Linked DNA regions of Homo sapiens: region 2 is linked to region 1. A link means that fine-mapping ties the variant in region 1 to the expression of a gene that starts in the linked region. Tissue or cell type: nucleus accumbens. Region 1 holds a variant in brackets; the other region holds the start of a gene. All regions are shown on one strand. Distances are from middle to middle.

Evidence for each region. PIP is the estimated chance that this variant, and not a neighbour inherited with it, causes the effect.
Region 2: CCDC8 starts here. The variant in region 1 is fine-mapped to the expression of CCDC8 in nucleus accumbens (GTEx, PIP above 0.99). The same link has a PIP of 0.9 or more in amygdala, cerebral cortex, hypothalamus, prefrontal cortex and putamen.

Annotation. Positions count from the first base shown.
Region 1 is chr19:46,429,531-46,440,302 of GRCh38, forward strand. No RefSeq gene overlaps it. Among named protein-coding and RNA genes, the nearest start is that of PNMA8C, 6.0 kb to the left of the region's middle. RefSeq lists a silencer at 4,848-5,048. The variant C/T (reference allele first, on the strand shown) is at 5,696.
Region 2 is chr19:46,409,353-46,417,480 of GRCh38, forward strand. It overlaps CCDC8 (coiled-coil domain containing 8 subunit of 3M complex), which reads right to left and starts at 4,212. Exons shown (of 1, transcript NM_032040.5): 1 at 977-4,212. The coding sequence starts at 3,458. The coding sequence ends at 1,842. RefSeq lists enhancers at 2,586-3,419, 5,086-5,919, 5,920-6,752 and a silencer at 7,179-7,268.

The sequences.
Region 1 (10,772 bases):
TTCAGAGGATAAAACATTCTTTTTTTTTTTTTTTTTTTTTTGAGATGAAGTCTCCCTCTGTTGCCCAGGCTAGAGTGCAGTGGCCCGATCTTGGCTCATTGCAACCTCTGCCTCCCCAGTTCAAGCGATTCTCCTGCCTCAGCTTCCCAAGTAGCTGGGATTACAGGCATGTGCCACCAAGCTCAGCTAATTTTTGTATTTTTAGTAGAGATGTAGTTTCACCATGTCGGCCAGGCTGGTCTTGAACTCCCAACCTCAGGTGATCCATCCACTTCGGCCTCCCAAAATGCTAGGATTACAGGCCACAGCCATTGCACCTGGCCGCGAAAACATTCTTTATACTATATTTGCAACTCTTCTGTAGGTTTATGGTTGTTTCAAATAAATGTTTAAAAATAAATAAGAAATGTCTCCCCCATGTGATGACATCCACAATGTCTATTCCTCTCCTCCCCAGTCCCCATTAATAAAGCCAAAACATTTGGGTTAGGTCGACACCCTTTATACCCCCAGTTCCAGGGATAAGCCCTGATTGGCTTGAACCAATTAGCATAATCTCACCCTCCTTCCCACAGTGATTGGTTCAGAAATGGTCACCCAGGTAACCTGGACAAAAAGCAATTAGTGCTTAATATGCCCCTCTTCTCTGAGATTGGTTAAAGGTTAGACACGTGAACTCAGTAAGTCCAGTCAGAATGAAGGTAAGGATTTCTGCAACTGGTAAGCGGAGGAAGACTCTCTCTTTCCTCCTAGACGTGAAAGACTAAGTATAGGAGCTACAGGAGGCTGTCTTGGAAGCATGACAAACTCTCTTCCTTCCTTCCTTCCTTCCTTCCTTCCTTCCTTCCTTCCTTCCTTCTTTTTTCTTTCTTTCCTTCTTTCTTTCAGACAGAGTCTTGCTCTGTCGCCCAGGCTGGAGTGCAGTGGCGCGATCTCGACTCACTGCAACCTCAACCTCTCAGGTTCAAGCAATTCTCCTGCCCCAGCCTGTAAAACAGCTGAGATTACAGGCGCCCGCCACCACGCCCGGCTAACTTTTTGTGTTTTTAGTAGAGACAGGGTTTCACCATGTTGTCCAGGCTGGTCTCAAACTCCTGACCTCAAGTGATCCACCTGCCCCGGCCTCCCAAAGTGCTGGGCTTACAGGCATGAACCACCGCGTCCAGCCAATAAACACTTTGAGGATGAACTTTGCATCTAGAGGAAGGCAGAGTTGAGGGAACAACCAGAAACCAGGCCATAGTCAGGAAGACATCATATGCCTCAGGATCAAACAACACCTGAAACCGACATCCCCTGAAACTTTGTTTTTACACGTAGTCAGAAGTGCACGAATTATAAATGAAAATCCATTAACTGAACACATGGTGTAACCAGCACCCAAATCAGTAAATGAACATCATAGCATTCCCAGAGGATATCCTGTGCTTTCTCCAAATCACTATATCCTCTTAAGGGAAGCCACTATCTTGACTTTCAACAGCATAGGTTAGTTTTGCCTGTTTTTGTATTTTACATAAATGGAATCACATATTACGTGGTCTATGTTTCTTGGTGAACATATATGTACATATCCATTAGTTTTAAGCCTGAACAAATGCCTTAGCAGATTCTACAAGTTTCCCAAACTGGTCGTACCATTTTATTCTCCCACCAAACAGTGTAAAAAAAAAAAATCCAGTTTCGCCACATGCTCATCAATACTAGATTTTTTTTTTTCCTGAGATGGAGTTTTGCTCTTGTTGCCCAGGCTAGAGTACAATGGCACGATCTCGGCTCACTGCAAGCTCCGCCTCCCGGGTTCACGCCATTCTTCTGCCTCAGCCTCCCGAGTAGCTGGGACTACAGGCGCCCACCACTAGGCCCGGCTAATTTTTTTGTATTTTTAGTAGAGACGGGGTTTTACCGTGTTAGCCAGGATGGTCTCGATCTCCTGACCTCGTGATCTGCACGTCTTGGCCTCTCAAAGTGCTGGGATTACAGGCGTGAGCCACCGCGCCCGGCCTGATGCCTCCGGTTTTATAGTCAGGAAAACCGAAGATCAGAGAGGTTAATTCACTTACCTAAGGTCACACAGCTAGTGAATGGCAAAGCTAGACTTCCCGCCTCAGCACCCTGACTCCTGGGCGCACAGATTTAACATTATACAATACCATGGAGTTCCCTGAGAAAGGGGTCCCATATTGTGTCACGCGGCTTAGTTCCTGTTCTGTCGTGAAGTTTCTGGATGACAGTTCCCTCTCTGGGCTGTATGTTGATTTTGTTCAGTGCCAGTTTAGCTAAGCTGGGCTTGTGTGTCCTAGAATAGCTTTCTGCAGGTGGCTGTTGGTTAGAGTCGTCTAAAAGAGAAATGTGCATTAGATTTACACAGCGGCTGGTGCTGTGAGAAGGTCTGCACAGGGTGCCACATGGCTCATGCATTTCATGACTGGTCTGTGGGCTCACCTTATTGGCTTGGGGCAGCCTCTGGGACTCCACCTGCTCCTGCCGGTCTCCTTTTCAGCGTCGGTGAACTTGGGGCCAGCACCGGAGCAGCTCTGTGGGGGCAAAAGGCACCAGCTTCCCCTGCAGGTCAAGCGTGGAATTGAGGTTGAAGGTGGGAAAAGAGACGTTGGTTGGGGGCGGGGGTTCCAGTTTGTCTTCAAGGATTCTAATTTTTTTTTTTTTTTTTTTTTTTTTTTGAGACGGAATCTCGCTCTGTTGCTCAGGCTGGAATGCAATGGTGCCATCTCTGCTCACTGCAACCTCCACCTCCCGGGTTCAAGCGATTCTCCGGCCTCAGCCTCCTGAGTAGCTGGGATTACAGGCACCCGCCATCATGCCCAGCTAATTTTTGTATTTTCATAGAGATGGGGTTTCACCATGTTGGCCAGGCTGGTCTCGAACTCCTGACTTCAAATGATCCGCCTGCCTCAATCTCCAAAAATGCTGGGATTGCAGGAGTGAGCCACCGCACCTGGCCTAGATTGTTCTTGTAGGTTCCAATTTGTCCTCTCTGTCCCGGTTCAGTTTCTAAATTGCCCAGCAGACTGGCCTACAGAGACTTAAAACCCAATACTAGTCACAGAAAAAAAAACTTTGATACACCCCTCCTCCAGCAACCCTAGCGCTCCCTGGTTAGTAATTTTTTTTTTTTTTTTTTTTTTTTGGAGATAAGGGTCTCTCTATGTTGCCCAGGCTGGTATCAAACTCCTGAGTTCAAGTGATTCTCCCACCTCGGCCTCCCAAAGTGTTGGGATTACAGGCCTGAGCCACCACGCCCAGCCTCAGTAACTTTTAAACAAGATCTCGCCATCCCTATATTATTATTATTATTTTGCCATCACGAATATAGTTTATTTTTAAATTTTTAATTTTTAATTGTGCGGGTACATGGTAGCTGTATATATGTATGGGGTTCACAAGATATTTGATACAGGCATGCAATGAGAAATAATCACATTGTGGAGAATGAAGTCGCCATCCCCTTAAGAACTTATCCTTTGTGTGACAAACAATCCAATTACATTCATTTAGCTATTTTGAAATGTACTATTATTATTAACAATAGTCATCCTGTTGTGCTATCAAATAGTATGTCTTATTCATTCTTTCTATTTGTGTTGAGTATTGTACCCATTAACCATCCCCACCTCCCCCATCCATCCCGCCGACGACCCTTCCCAGCCTCTGGTAACCTTCTGTCTATATGTTAAAAAAAAAAAAAAAACTGCTTTTTTTGTTTTGTTTTGTTTCGAGATGGAGTCTCACTCTGTCGCCCAGGCTGGAGTGTAATGGTGCGATCTTGGCTCACTGCAACCTCTGCCTCCCAGGTTCAAGTGATTCTCATGCCTCAGCCTCCCTAGCAGCTGAGATTACAGGCACGCGCCACCACGCCTGGCTAATTTTTGTATTAGTAGAGATGGGGTTTCACCATGTCAGCCAGGCTGGTCTGGAACTCCTGACCTCAAGTGATCCACCCGCCTCGGCCTCCCAGAGTGCTGGGATTACAGGCGTGAGCCAACATGCCTGTCCTCGTTCAATTGTTTTGATTATTTTAATTCCCACAAATAAATGAGAACATGCCGTTTGTCTTTCTGTGCCTGGCTTATTTCACTTAACATAATGACCTCCAGTTCCATCCACGTTTTTGCAAATGGCAGGATCTCATTCTTTTTCATGGCTGAATAGTACTCCATTGTGTATAAGCACCACATTTTCTGTATCCATTCTTCTGTTGATGGACACTCAGGTTGTTTCCAAATCTTCACTGTCGTGGACAGTGCTGCAAAAAATATGGGAGTGCAGAGATCTCCTTAATCTACTGATTTCCTTTCTTTTGGGTATATACCCAGCAGTGGGATGGCAGGATCAATTTTTAGCTTAATTTTTAGTTTTGAGGAACCTCCAATTTACATTCCCACCAACAGAGTATGAGGGTTCCCTTTTCTCCACCAGCATTTGTTCTTTGCTGTCTTTTGGATATAAGCTTTTTTTTTTTTTTTTGAGACGGAGTTTCACTCTTGTTGCCCAGGCTGGAGTGCAATGGTGCAATCTCGGCTCACTGCAACCTCCGCCTCTCAGGTTCAAGCAATTCTCCTGCCTCAGCCTCATGAGTAGCTGGGATTACAGGCATGCTCCACCACGCCTGGCTAATTTTTTGTATTTTTGGTAGAGACAGCGTTTCTCCATGTTGGTCAGGCTGGTCGTGAACTCCCGACCCCAGGTGATCTGCCCGCCTCAGCCTCCCAAAGTGCTGGGATTACAGGCGTGAGCAATTGCATCTGGCCAGATATAAGCTATTTTAACTGGGGTGAGATGGATATCTTTATCTTATTTTAGTTTTGACCACCATCCCTTTCTGGGTCCTCACCTCCCCAGATTCACCCCCAATTGTCTAAGATCCAATCACATAATGTTTCTTATCCCACGTGGCTCATAGCAGACCTCCTTCTGCTTAACACGGACCAATCCTGAACAACCATGACTCTTCCTTTATAAACATCAGTTGCACTAACATACTACTTTTCAGGTTTTCCAGTAGAGAGAAAACAAGGGAAGTGTGCCCTCTCATTTAGGGGTTTTAGGAACCAGCTCTTCCACAGAGATTTCTTTTAAGTCTAATTTTGTCATAAAAAATTTTGCATTCGAGCCGGGCGTGGTGACTCACACCTGTAATCCCAGCACTTTGGGAGGCTGAGGCGGGTGGATTACCTGAGGTCAGGAGTTCGAGACCAGCCTGGCCAACATGACAAAACCCCATCTCTGGTAAAAATACAAAAATTAGCCGGGTGTGTTGGCACACACCAGTAATCCCAGCTACTTGGGAGACTGAGGCAGGAGAATCACTTGAACCTGGCAGGTGGAGATTGCAGTGAGCCAAGATTGCGCCACTGCACTCCAGCCTGGGTGACAGAGTGAGACTCTGTCTCAAAAAAAAAAAAAAAAAAAAAATTCACATTCGACTCCATGACATGACCATTTTAATACAAAGATGAGTTTTCCTTCCAAAGATGAAGTAAAATTGTTGATCCAAAATATTTGCCACGAGTTTATGAATCCTTGACACGCCATTGCATATCCCTGGGCTTATGCATGTTCCCAATTGAGAAGCAAGGGAAGAGAATGGTTCATTTATTTGATCCACCAGGATTTACTGAGAAGTGTCCTTGTTCTAGGCTTGGGTAACGTGCTGGGCATACTTGAGTGAGGGAGA[C/T]AGGCTCTGCTTTGAGGAGCTCAGTCCAGTGGTTACGACAGGCTGGCTCAGTCTGTTTACAGGCAGGGAGAGAAGCCCTATAATTACTACGATGTGTTCCGATCCTGGTGTGGGGTGTAGAATACAGAATATATCAAGTGGGCTTAGTTTTCCTGGAACATGTTTTGCTAGAGTTTAAAGAGAGAACCGCATAAAGTCCTTTGGCGGCCCTGAGATACCTGACTGACATAATTACTGTATCAGTAACCTTTTTATTAATTCACTCTTCAACGTCTCTGATTAATTCTCCATAAAGGAATTCATCTGTCTGGTCTCATCTGGGAAGGCTTCCCGCAGGAGGTGACATTTGAGAGAAATCTTGATGGATGCATATAATAACCACAAATAATACTATTTTAAAAAGTAATAACTGCTAACTTTTGCATAGGGCATACTAAAATATTCTAAGCCTTCTATGTGTACTAAGTCATCTAATTTTTACAACAGTCCATGAGTTAGATGTTTTATTGATTCAATCATTTATTCATTCAACAAGTATTTATTGAATAGTTCCTGTATCTTATAGTCAGGAAAACTGAGGACCAGAGAGGTTAAATCACTTACCTGGGGCCACACAGCTAGTGAGATTTTTTTTTTTTGAGATAGGGTCTTGCTCTGTTGCCCAGGCCGGAATGCAGTGGCGCAATCATGGCTCACTGCAGCCTCAACCTCCCAGGCTCAAGCAATCTTCCCACCTCAGCCTCCTGAGTAACCGAGACTATAGGCGCATGCCACCACACCTAGCTAACTTAATTTTTTTTTTTTTTTTTTTTTGTAGAGACAGAGTCTCACTATGTTGCCCAGGCTGGTCTCAAACTCCTGAGCTCAAGCAATCCTCCTGGCTCAGTCTCCCAAAGTGCTGGGATTACAGGTATGAGCCATTATGCCTGGCCAAATGAGTTTTGTTTTTTTTTTTTGGGGGGACGAACTCTCGCTCTGTGGCCCAGCCTGGAGTGCAGTGGCGCGATCTTGGCTCACTGCAACTTCCGCCTCCCGGGTTCACTCCATTCTCCTGCCTCAGCCTCCCGAGTAGCGGGGACTACAGGTGCCCGCCACCACGCCTGGCTAATTTTTTGTATTTTTTTTAGTAGAGACGGGGTTTCACCACGTTAGCCAGGACGGTCTCGATCTCCTAACCTCGTGATCCGCCCGCCTCAGCCTCCCAAAGTGCTGGGATTACAGGCGTGAGCCACCGCGCCTGGCCTTTTTTTTTTTTTTTTTTTTTTTTTTTTTTTTGAGACGGAGCCTCGCTCTGTCACCCAGGCTGGAGTGCAATGGCGGGATCTCAGCTCACTGCAACATCCGCCTCCCAGGTTCAAGTGATTCTCCTGCCTCAGCCTCCCGAGTAGCTGGAATTACAGGTCCCCACCATTACGCCCAGCTAATTTTTGTATTTTTGGTAGAGAGGGGGGTTTCTCCATGTTGGCCAGGCTGATCTCGAACTCCTGAGCTTAGGTGATCTGCCCACCTCGACCTCCCAAAGTGCTGGGATTACAGGCATGAGCTACCACGCCTGGCCGAGATTTTTACAATTTGATTTAGCTTAATTTTTTTCCATGAATTTTCTGTTTGTATCTTTTACCCATTTTTATTAAAAAATGGGGTTTCCTTTTTTGCTGAAGAGTAAAAAAGCTTTACAGATAAAGGAAATTAGCATATTATCACACCACATGTAATAGCTTAGTTACTTGTTTTTTGTTGGTGGCTTTTTTTTTTTTTGAGATGCAGTCTCATTCTGTCACCCAGGCTACAGTGCAGTGGCCGATCTCAGCTCACTGCAAGCTCCGCCTCTCAGGTTCATGCCATTCTCCTGCCTCAGCCTCCCAAGTAGCTGGGACTACAGGCGCCTGCCACCACGCCTGGCTAATTTTTTGTATTTTTAGTAGAGACGGGGTTTCACCATGTTAGCCAAGGTGGTCTCGATCTCCTGACCTCTTGATCTGCCTGCCTCAGCCTCCCAAAGTGCTGGGATCACAGGCGTGAGCCACCGCGCCTGGACGATGGAGTTTTTTTTTTTTTTTAAATAATCTATATATATATATTTATTATTATTATTTTATTTTTGAGATGGAATCTCACTTTATTGCCCAGGCTGGAGGGCAGTGGTGTGATCTCGGCTCAATGCAACCTCCGCTTCCCAGGTTCAAGCGATTCTCCTGCCTCAGTCTCCTGAGTAGATGGTATTACAGGCGTGAGCCACCACGCCTGGCTATTTTCTTCGTATTTTTAGTAGAGTCAAGGTTTCACTATGTTGGCCAGGCTGGTCTTGAACTCCTGACCTCAAGTGATCCACTTGCCTCAGCCTCCCAAAGTGCTGGGATTGCAGGCGTGACCCACCGCGCCCGGCCTTGGCTAAGTTACTTGTTGGTTAGAGTCTAGGTTCTGGGGATAGAGCAATGAATGAGATGGACAAAATCCCCTGATTTCCAAAAGCTGACACTGTATTGGGCCGACAGAGCAGGGACAAATAAATAAGATATATAATATGTCATGTGGTGATCAGGATTGGTTACGGGGAAAAATAAAGCAGGAAAGACAGAGAAGGGCCAGGACTCACGCCTGTAATCCCGCCACTTTAGGAGGCCAAGGCAGGAGGACTACTTGAGCCCAGGAGTTTGAGACCAGCCTGGGCAACAAAGTGAGACCCCAGGCTGCAGTGAGCTATGATGATACCACTGCACTCCAGCCTGGGAGACAGAGTGAGATCCCATCTCAAAAGAAAAAATTAAATTAAAAAGACAGACAGAGGGCCGGGCATGGTGGCTCACGCCTGTAATCCCAGCACTTTGAGAGGCCGAGGTGGGCGGATCACGAGATCAAGAGATGGAGACCATCCTGGCTAACACAGTGAAACCCCGTCTCCACTAAAAATACAAAAAATTAGCCGGGCATGGTGGCGGGCGCCTGAAGTCCCAGCTACTCGGGAGGCTGAGGCAGGAGAATGGCGTGAACCCGGGAGGCGGAGCTTGCAGTGAGCCGAGATCGCGCCACTGCACTCCAGCCTGGGCAACAGAGCGAGACTCTGTCTCAAAAAAAAAAAAAAAAAAAGAGAGAGACAGAGCGAGAGAGACAGGCATAGAGAGTGTGTATTGGGAGAGGATGTTATAATTTACAGTGTGCCAAGTAAAGGTTTCATGGAGGTGACATTTGGAGCAAAGACCTGAAGGAGGTGAGAGAGCCACCTTGTGAACATGTGAGGGAACTGTGTTCCAAGCAGAAGGAACAGTCAGTGCGGCCGGGCACGGCGGCTCACGCCTGTAATCCCAGCACTTTGGGAGGCCAAGGCGGGTGGATTGCCTGAGCTCAGGAGTTCAAGACTAGCTGGGCAACATGGTGAAATCCTGTCTCTACTAAAATACAAAAAATTAGCCGGGCGTGGTGGCGGGCGCTTGTAGTCCCAGCTACTCGGGAGGCTGAGGCAGGAGAATGGCTTGAACCTGGGAGGCGGAGCTTGCAGTGAGCCGAGATCCCGCCACTGCACTCCAGCCTGGGTGACAGAGCGAGACTTCTTCTCAAAAAAAAAAGAAAAAAAAAAAGTCAGTGCAAAGGCCCTGAGGCTGGAGCCTGCCTGGTGTACTTGAAGAACAGCAGAAACCCGTGGTGCCTGGCAGCAGAGGGAGCAAGGGAGTGTTGAGAAGAAAGCCCAAGAAAAAGCAGGCCGCGCAAGAGAGGAGGTGACAGCCAGATCTTACAAGACCTCAAAGCTCCTGGTGGGGACTTGGGACTTTTCTCTGGGTGAGATGGAACACCCAAGGTGGGGAGGTTTGATGAGGTAACTGAGGGCGTTATAGGAGTTTGCCAGTCAGGAATGATGTTGGAGTAGGAGGATGTAGGTTTCTGAGAGTTGAAAAGGAACAATTAATCCTTCACACAGCAAATGTATATATTTATACATTTAACTCTGGCTCTGTTCCAAACCTTGTGTTAACAGTGAGCCCAATAGCTATTAATACAAATAGAATGTAATGCCAGGAATTTAGCCACTCATAACTTACATGAGTTATGAACTTTTTTTTCTTTTTGAGACAGGGTCTCTCTCTGTCACCCAGGCTGGAGTGCAGTGGCGTCATCCTGGCTCACTGCAATCTCTGCCTCCCGGGTTCAAGCCATTCTCCTGCCTCAGCCTCCCAAGTAGCTGGGATTACAGGAGCACACCACCACACCCAGCTAATTTTTGTATTTTTAGTAGAGATGGGGGTCTCAACATGTTGCCCAGGCTGGTCACGAACTCCTGACCTCAGGTGATACACTTGCCTCGGCCTCTCAAAGTGCTGGGATTACAGGCGTGAGCCACCACGCCCTGCCTGAGGTGTCGTTTTTGACATTTAAATCTGCAATCTAGGCTGAGGATGGTGGCGCACGCCTGTAATCCCAGCTACTTGGGAGGCTGAGGCAGGAGAATCGCCTCCACCCAGGAGGTGGAGGTTGCAGTGAGCCGAGATGATGCCACTGCACTCCAGCCTAAGTGACAGAGTAAGACTCTCTCTCAAAAAAAATTAAAAAAAAAAAAAATAAATAAATAATAAATCTCCAATCTACCTCTAACTTTATACCTTTCCAGATGGCTATTGAGTGTCTTAGTTTTATGGAGAAAAGTCCATCTCGTTTTCAATGATATGAAATTCCACTGTTAAAATGTAAATTCCCAGCTGGGTATGGTGGCTCATGCCTGTAATCCCAGCACTTTGGGAGGCCAAGGCGGGTGGATTGCCTGAGCTCAGGAGTTCAAGACTAGCTGGGCAACATGGTGAAATCCTGTCTCTACTAAAATACAAAAAATTAGCCGGGCGTGGTGGCGGGCGCTTGTAGTCCCAGCTACTCGGGAGGCTGAGGCAGGAGAATGGCTTGAACCTGGGAGGCGGAGCTTGCAGTGAGCCGAGATCCCGCCACTGCACTCCAGCCTGGGTGACAGAGCGAGACTTCTTCTCAAAAAAAAAAGAAAAAAAAAAAGTCAGTGCAAAGGCCCTGAGGCTGGAGCCTGCCTGGTGTACTTGAAGAACAGCAGAAACCCGTGGTGCCTGGCAGCAGAGGGAGCAAG
Region 2 (8,128 bases), 22 kb before region 1:
AGGCCTGCAACCAGTTAGGAAGACAGACTGGCCTTTGGACCTCCACGAACTCTCTTTTCTCCTGCCCTCAGCAAGGCTAGAGTGTGGTCATTTGCTGTTTTTCACTGCTAGGGGTTGTGGGGACACAAGGCAATACAGGCCCCCAGCTTCCTCCTAACCTCCACAGGGCTTTAGCAACCCAGTTTCTTCCCAATTATAGGAAGCAGTTGGCCGCGTGCAGTGGCTCATGCCTGTAATCCCAGCACTTTGGGAAGCAGAGGTGGGCAGATCAGCTGAGGTTAGGAGTTCAAGACAAGCTTGGCCAATATGGTGAAACCTCATCTCTACTAAAAATACAAAAATTAGCCAGGTGTGGTGGCACACACCTGTAGTCCCAGCTATTCGGGAGGCTGAGGGAGGAGAATCGCTTGAACCAGGGAGGCGGAGATGGCAGTGAGCCGAGATCGTGCCACTGCACTCCAGCCTGGGAGACAGAGAGTGAGATTCCATCTCCAAAAAGAAAAAAAAAAATGCAGCAGCAATTAATGCACAATACACACAGCCTCTTTTTTTTTTTTTTTTTTTTTTTTTTTTTGAGACAGAGTCTCACTGTGTCACTAGGCTGGAGTGCAATGGCACAATCTCGGCTCACTGCAACCTCCACCTCCTGGGTTCAAGAGATTCTCTTGCCTCAGCCTCCAGAGTAGCTGGGACTACAGGCGTGCGCCACAAGGCCAGTCTAATTTTTGTATTTTTATTAGAGACGGGGTTTCACCACGTTGGCCAGGATGGTCTCGATCTCTTGACCTCGTGATCCACCCGCCTTGGCCTCCCTAAGTGCTGGGATTACAGGCGTGAGCCACCATGCCCGGCCAACCACAGCCCCTCTTTTGGGCCTTTTCCTATTGCAATGATTTTTCAATGTGTCCAGTGGCCGAGTTGCCCAGATGTCCGTGGAGCTTGATGCAAACAGAATTCAGAGCCACACAGGCACCGCTAGCAAATCCACACCTCTGGTGCCGAGGGCCCCAGAATCTGTGTTTTGAATGCATTTTTCAGACGCTTTTACTGTACCTTATAACCAAGATCGGGTGAGGTGTGCAAACCAAGGGCCCTGTCCCCTCCAAACCAGCAGAGCCCGGGGCATGAGGATGGCAAGCGAAGTGACAACATAAACACAGGTGTCTCCATCATCAAGGATGGGAGTGGAACGGACAGCAAGGGCCAGGTCACCCCCAGAGCATTCGTCAGTTGTCAAGTCCAAAGCTAAGAAATCAGTTCATAAATGTTTTTTGATTTGCATGTTGGCTCAACTCTTTTTAAGTCCAAGGAGGCAGTCCACATTAAGTGTGCAGGCAAAAAAGAGATGGAAAAAGGAGTCAGTTTCTCCCCTGCCCTCCCTCTCTCCCTTTATCAAGCTGAGCACCTTGAGTTGCATTTGAGGAAATGAAAACTATAGGTGACGCAACCCCATTGTGTCGAATTCTTTCTTTACATTTTTTGGGTTGCTACAAGGAATCAGTATTTTTTTTTTTTAATCAGATGGTGTGTGTGGTGGCTCACATCTGTAATCCCAGCATTTTGGGAGGCCGAGGCAGGAGGATCACTTGAGGCCAGAAGTTTGAGGCTGCAGTGAGTTATGATCATGCCACTGCACTCCAGCCTGGGCAACAGAGTGAGACCCTGTCTCTAAAAAATTTAAAAAAAAATCAAAGCATGAACAAAACTTTAACAAGAGAATAAAGAGGGTTGTTAGGTGGAGACGTGGCCAGCACTCCACCTCCACTTTGAAGTTCAGAGGCAGAGCATCTCTCCCTCCCACACTTGGAGGGAGGGCCCGTGGGCTGTCTCTAGCCCTCACCTCACAGCTGGTCTTCTTGCTCTCCCTGCTCAGCTTCTGCTCTGGCCTCGGCCCTCAGCACCCTGAGGTTCCTGGCCTCTCCTGCCCTGGGGACTCTCTTGGGCAGGGTTGGCAACCGGGGAGTGTGCCAGAAGGCTCTCCGGCGCTTGCAAAACCACGAAAAGCGTCCAGGGGTCTGGAACCTCACTGTCTTGACCTGTTTCCGGGCCCTGGCTCCTGGAGCTGTTCCTGTGGTCCCTTGGGCAGCTGAGACTTCAGCTTCCTGGATACCTGGGGCCCCTGCCCTCTGATTATGTGCAGCCTCTGCCCTCTGGCCAGCCCGGGCCTGTGCCCTCTGATTATCTGCACCCTGGACAGCTGGGGCCCTTTCCCTCTGGTCATGTACGGCCTCTTCCCTTTGATTATCTGTAACCTCTGACCCCTGGTCAGCTGGGGCCTCCGCCCTCTGATTATCTGCAGCCTCTTCCCTGTGGTTATCTGTGCCCTGTGACCTCTGGTCAGCTGGGGCCTCTGCCCTCTGATTATCTGCAGCCTCTTCCCTCTGGTTATCTGCAGCCTCTGCCCCCTCCTCAGCTGGGGCCCCTGCCCTCTGATTATCTGCAGCCTCTTCCCTCTGATTATCTGCAGCCTCTGCCCCCTGGTCAGCTGGGGCCCCTGCCCTCTGATTACCTGCAGCCCCTTCCCGCTGGTCAGCTATGGCCTCTTCCCTTTGACTATCTGCAGCCTCTCCCCCCTGATCAGCCTCGATGTCTGCCCCCTGACCTGTGGGTGCTGTCTGCTCCTTCCTGCGGCGCCGAAAGGAGGCCCAGTTGATCTTGGGCCTCCATCGCCTAGGGGAAGCCTGGGGCACACAAACATCTCCCGCGTTTCCCAAGCGATCCCCCGGGCTGGTGCCCTCTGGCGCCGATGATACCCCTGCGCTCTCCACTGCGGTGGAGGCCAGCCGGGCCTCGCCCACCCCGGGGCCCGCCCTCGGCGCCCAACCCTTCACCCTCCGCTTCAGCTTCCCCCAGGACACCTGGCTGACATACTCCCGCCACCTGTCCGCTTTGGACAGCTGAGGCCCCAGGTTGTCCTCAAACATGGGCACTGGCAGGTTGACGCGGCGGCGGGCAGGCGGCGCGCTGGGCTGCTTCTCCTGTCGCCGGAGGAAGGCCTCGACCAGTTCCTCATCATCCTCACTCTCCAGGTCGCTTCCCAGGAACTTGCTGCCCAGGTAGCTGACGGGCATTTTGCGCACCTTCTTGCCCCGCCGCGGGCCCTGGCGGCTCTTGTCTCTGGAGGTCTCGAAGTCGCTGAACTCGCTGTCGCTGGCGTTGCTGCTGTCGTACGTGCCCACGACCAGCCGGGGCGGAGGAGTCACCATCTGCTGCACTCTCCTCCTCACTCGGGGCTCCTTGGGCTTTTTGGGGGGCTGGGGCGGGTGCGGGGTGCTCTTCTCCATGATGCGGGCCACGTCCTCCAGGGTGCGGCCCTCTTCTTCCAGGAACTGGGTCAGCCGCTCCCGAAATTCTGCTTCCTTGGTGGCGGGCTTAGAGATGACTCTCCAGACGCCCCCAGCCAGCCTGACCTCCCGGGGGATGAGCAAATAGTCGACGTCCTCCCCGATCTGCAGCATCCCCACCGTGGAGTCCTCCTCCTTGCGGAACACCTTGCCGATCTTCTTAAATGTCCCCACGGGCTTTAGGGCTTCCACGAGGACGTCCAAATCCACATCTTTGCAGACATCGGGGACGCTCCAAAGAATGAGGCAGTCGGGGGACGGCAGGAAGCCCCAGGGGAACCAGCCCCCCACGTGGCTTTTCTCGAGAGTCTTTAAGATCTCCAGGGTGATATCTGGGGTGAGGGGGCAATGAGCCCCAACAAACTACTGTAGCCCTTAGTCTTGAGGGAGGGACTGGATGGGGGGAGTTCCAGCAACGCTGACCGGAGAGTCTCACCTCCCTAGCCAGGGACGAGCCAAACGCCTCCAATCTCTTCGCCTGCAACAAGTACAGTCTTGACCAAGTCCGGCTCCCCCACCAAGGACTTGGGGGAATCAATTTCCAGGATGCCTACGTGAGCCGGGGGCGAGGTCAGTCCCAAGGCTCAAGGCCCACTCCAAGCTGGAAACGTGGTGTCCCAGCTCCAAGTTGGGGCGCGCGGGCTGCCAGCGACTCTTCCTGCCCCAGGCCCCAGGGACGCGGCTGGAACTTGGGACAGGACTTCGCAGACAAAGACGGTCCAGTCGAAGCTATTCAATATGGCCGAGGCGCTGGGAGGCCCCAGCCCGGGCCTCCAGTAGGGTCCCCCGCCCCCAGGCAGGCCGCCACCCAGCTCCAGGCTGACCTTGACGCGCCGCAGCCTGCCAGCCCGCGCGCTTAGAGCTCTGCACCGTGGAGCGCGCGGGCAGGAAGTTCCTCCTCGCCCTCCGCCAGAATGAGGCCCACCTTCCCCCGTCTCATCTTACACTCCCAGACTCTGGAAGACTGACAGGGGGGCTGTCCACTCCCTTCGGGGCGGCCTCCTTCCCCTCCCCCACAGGGGTGTGGCCGCGCCCCGGGCCTAGCTGGGCCCATTGCTTCCCAGCGAAGCGGCAGTGGCCCACGTCAGCACCTTTCCTGAAAGGCAGCGGTTCCCAAACCTGCCATCCGAAATGTGCAAGTTTCCAGCCAAGTCCGGGAGGTGGGTGTGCTAGTGGATTCTACTTTTTGAGAGCCACTGGCACCACAGATTAGCATTTTAAATTCACGCGACTATCGGTACCCGTACACCTATATGCGTGGGTAGAGAAATGGGTACCTGACTGCAACAGTCCCACTGTGGCGCTTGGCAGGTCAGGGCTCAATACATATTTTTGAGGGGATGAATAAACCCAAATGTTCATGGCCAGGCGCGGTGGCTCATGCCTGTAATGCCAGCACTTTGGGAGGCCCAGGTGGGTGGAACACTTGAGGCCAGGAGTTCGAGACCAGCCTGCCCAACATGGTGAAACCCTCGTCTCTACCCCGGGTGTGGTGGTGCGCGTGCGTAGTCCCAAGCTACGCGAGAGGCTGAGGCAGGAGAATGGCGTGAACCTGGGAGGTGGAGGTTGCAGAGATCGCGCCACTGCACTCCGGCCTGCGCAACAGAGGGAGACTGTCTCAAAAAAACAAAAGTGCAAAAAAACCCCTACAAATAAACAACAACAAAAAACCCTAAAAGTTCACGAGTAGAGACTGCCTCTATTTTATGGTAGTATCTTACAGTGAAATATTTTGCAACTTCGAAAAAAGAATGAGATGGCTAAGGATAGGCACGGTTTATGAGGCGCTTCCTATGTAGTAGGCACCATTCCCAGTGCTTTCTATGAATGAACTCAGGAAATCCTTGCTATAACAGGAGACTGGTAGCATGAGTACAATTCCCATTAGACAGCTGAGGAAACTGAGGCCCAAGGACATAAAACCACACTCTCAAGGTCACAGCCATGGGGAGTGGTTGAGTTTGGATTTGAATCCAGAATAGTCTGCCTTTTGTGTCGACCAAAGAGTCAAGATGGCCAGGCGCGGTGGCTCACGCCTGTAATCCCAGCCCTTTGGGAGGCTGAGGCGGGCAGATCACGAGGTCAGGAGATCAAGACAAGACCATCCTGGCTAACGCGGTGAAACCCTGTCTCTACTAAAAATGCAAAAAAATTAGCCGCGCGTGGTGGTACGTGCCTGTAGTCCCAGCTACTCGGGAGGCTGAGGCAGAAGAATCTCTTGAACCCGGGAGGCGGAGGTTGCAGTGAGCCGCGATCGCACCACTGCACTCCAGCCTGGACGACAGAGCAAGACTCCGTCTCAAAAAAAAAAAAAGAAAGAAAGAAAGAAAAAAAAGAATCAAGATGTGAACCAATGCTAGTCGCATTCGGCCGGGAGCTCGGTTCTTGAGACGCGAGTCTACCGAAGCTCCCGCCAGTTGAGAGGCGAGTCTGCCGAAGCTCCCGGCCGAAAAAGCCAAATCCTTCCTTAACCCAGTGTCTGAGGGGTTTTGTCCGTGGCTCCTCCTGCTACAGGACATGCGACTAGCATTGGTCCACATCTTTGGAACCAGGCATCCAGAGACATGTTGAATAGGCCTCGTTGTTAGGAACCCTCAGAGGTACATGGTAAGGCCAGTGCCATCAATCATCTTTTTACAGACGGTGAAACTGAGGCTGGTCTGAAGTTGCACAGCTCTGAGTGGTGGATCTAATATAATATTAGAACCAGATCTTGGGCACTAGCATTTAAAACACTAGCTGACGCTAAAGACACAGCTAATCCCCTTCTCCTAAATGTGTTGCACCATTTAACCACTTAGCAGCCACAATACTTGCAGCCACTCTTGCCTGGATGTGTACAAAGCCCCCTCACTGGGCTTCCCGCCTCCCCATCACTGCTTGCAATCCAGGCCCCATCCAGAAGCTGGGGGCATCTTTTAAAAACTTAGGTCCGATCTGTCTCTACTCTTTTGAAAATTCTCCATCTCAGGCTGGGCGCCGTGGCTCACGCCTTTAATCCAGCACTTTGGGAGGCTGAGGCGGGCGGATCACCTGAGGTCCGGAGTTTGAGACCAGCCTGGTCAACATGGCAAAACCCCATCTCTACTAAAAAATACAAAAATTGCCGGGCGCGGTGGCTCACGCTTGTAATCCCAGCATTTTGGGAGGCTGAAGCGGGTGGATCACCTGAGGTCAGAAGTTTGAGACCAGCCTGGCCAACATGGTGAAACCCCGCCTCTACTAAAACTACAAAACTAGCCTGTCTTGGTGGCGCATGCCTGTAATCCCAGCTACTCCGGAGGCTCAGGCAGGAGAATCGTTTGAATCCGGGATTCAGAGGTTGCAGTGAGCTGAGACCGTGCCATTGCACTCCAGCCTGGGCAACAAGAGCGAAACTCCGTCTCAAAAACAAACAAACAAAAAAAAGAAACGAACAAAAATATAAGAATTAGCCGGGCATGGTGACACATGCCTGTAATCCCAGCTACTGGGGAGGCTGAGGCAGAAGAATCGCTTGAACTGGGAGGCGGAGGTTGCAGTGAGCCAAGATCGCGCCACTGCCCTCCACCTTGGGCGACAGAGCGAGACTCCGTCTCAAATAAATAAATAAATGTGATCTTATTTAACTCATAAAGGAACCAGGCAAATTTTTAAAGAGGGAACGGAGGAAAAAGAGACGGGCCAGAGGGAAAGAAAAGATGTGGGGGCTTAGGGGACGTTAAGGTCTCAGCGAGCGGCCTGTTCACAATTACCGGCTTATTCAGGTTGTTTTTCTCTTGCAGAGCCAGGTCGTTGGGCTTCGCTGGATTTTTCTCCTCTTTCTCCCTGGCTCAGTCCCAGCCGCCGCGCTCAGCCCCCGGGCCTCCCGCGGCCCCGCCCCTCGCCTCCCCCTTCGCACAGTTTGTGGCCTCCGCAGTCCGGCGGTCTCCATGGCAACCACGGGACGCGCTCCTCCGCGCGGATCAAAACTAAGCGGGTGGGGCGGAGGCGGAGGCGAGGCTGCAGGGAGATGGTGGGGGTGGGGGCGCCACGGAGGACGAGGGCAGGAGCTCCTCTTTTCTGCCCCTGGTGCCTCCCTTAGGCCTCATCCCCAAAGCCAGCTTCCCTGAAAAGCTGTTTGTAGAAACCAAAAAATGAAAAATCCTAAGGACACCTAGGTTTCAGGAATGCTGATTAAAGAATCGCAAGTCTGAGGGCTCATGACAGTGCCTTCCAAGTGGTGACCTCGCAGATGAGACGTTTGGGTTTTGTAGTCATAAAAGGGCTTTCGTTTTGTTTGTTTGTTTTGTTTTTTGTTTGTTTTTCTTTTTTTATTTGGTGGGGGAGCAGGGAGCGGCGCAAGGAGGATAATCTAAGAAATGAAAATCCCAAATGTTCCATATTTTTGCAAAAATCGTCAACCTCCGGCCGGGGGCGGTGACTCATGCCTGTAATCCCAGCACTTTGGGAAGCCAAGGCAGGAGGATCGCTTGAGCCCAGGAATTGGAGACCAGCCTGGGCAACATAGCGAGACTCCGGTCTCCACAAAAAATTTAAAAATTAGCCGAATATTATGGTGTGCGCCTGTGGTCTGAGCTACTCGGGAGACTGAGGTGGGCCTATCGCTTGAGCCCGGGAGGTCAGGGCTGCAGGAAGCGGAGATCGCCCATCTGCACGCCAGCCTGGGCAACAGAGCGAGACTCCATCTCAAAAAAAAAAAAAATTGCCAGCCCCTGAACGGTTCAGCTGTGGGTGTTTTTAATTGCACAGATCTCTGGCAGGTGAGACCCTTCTCCAGCCATCACAGAATAAAATAATAAAAA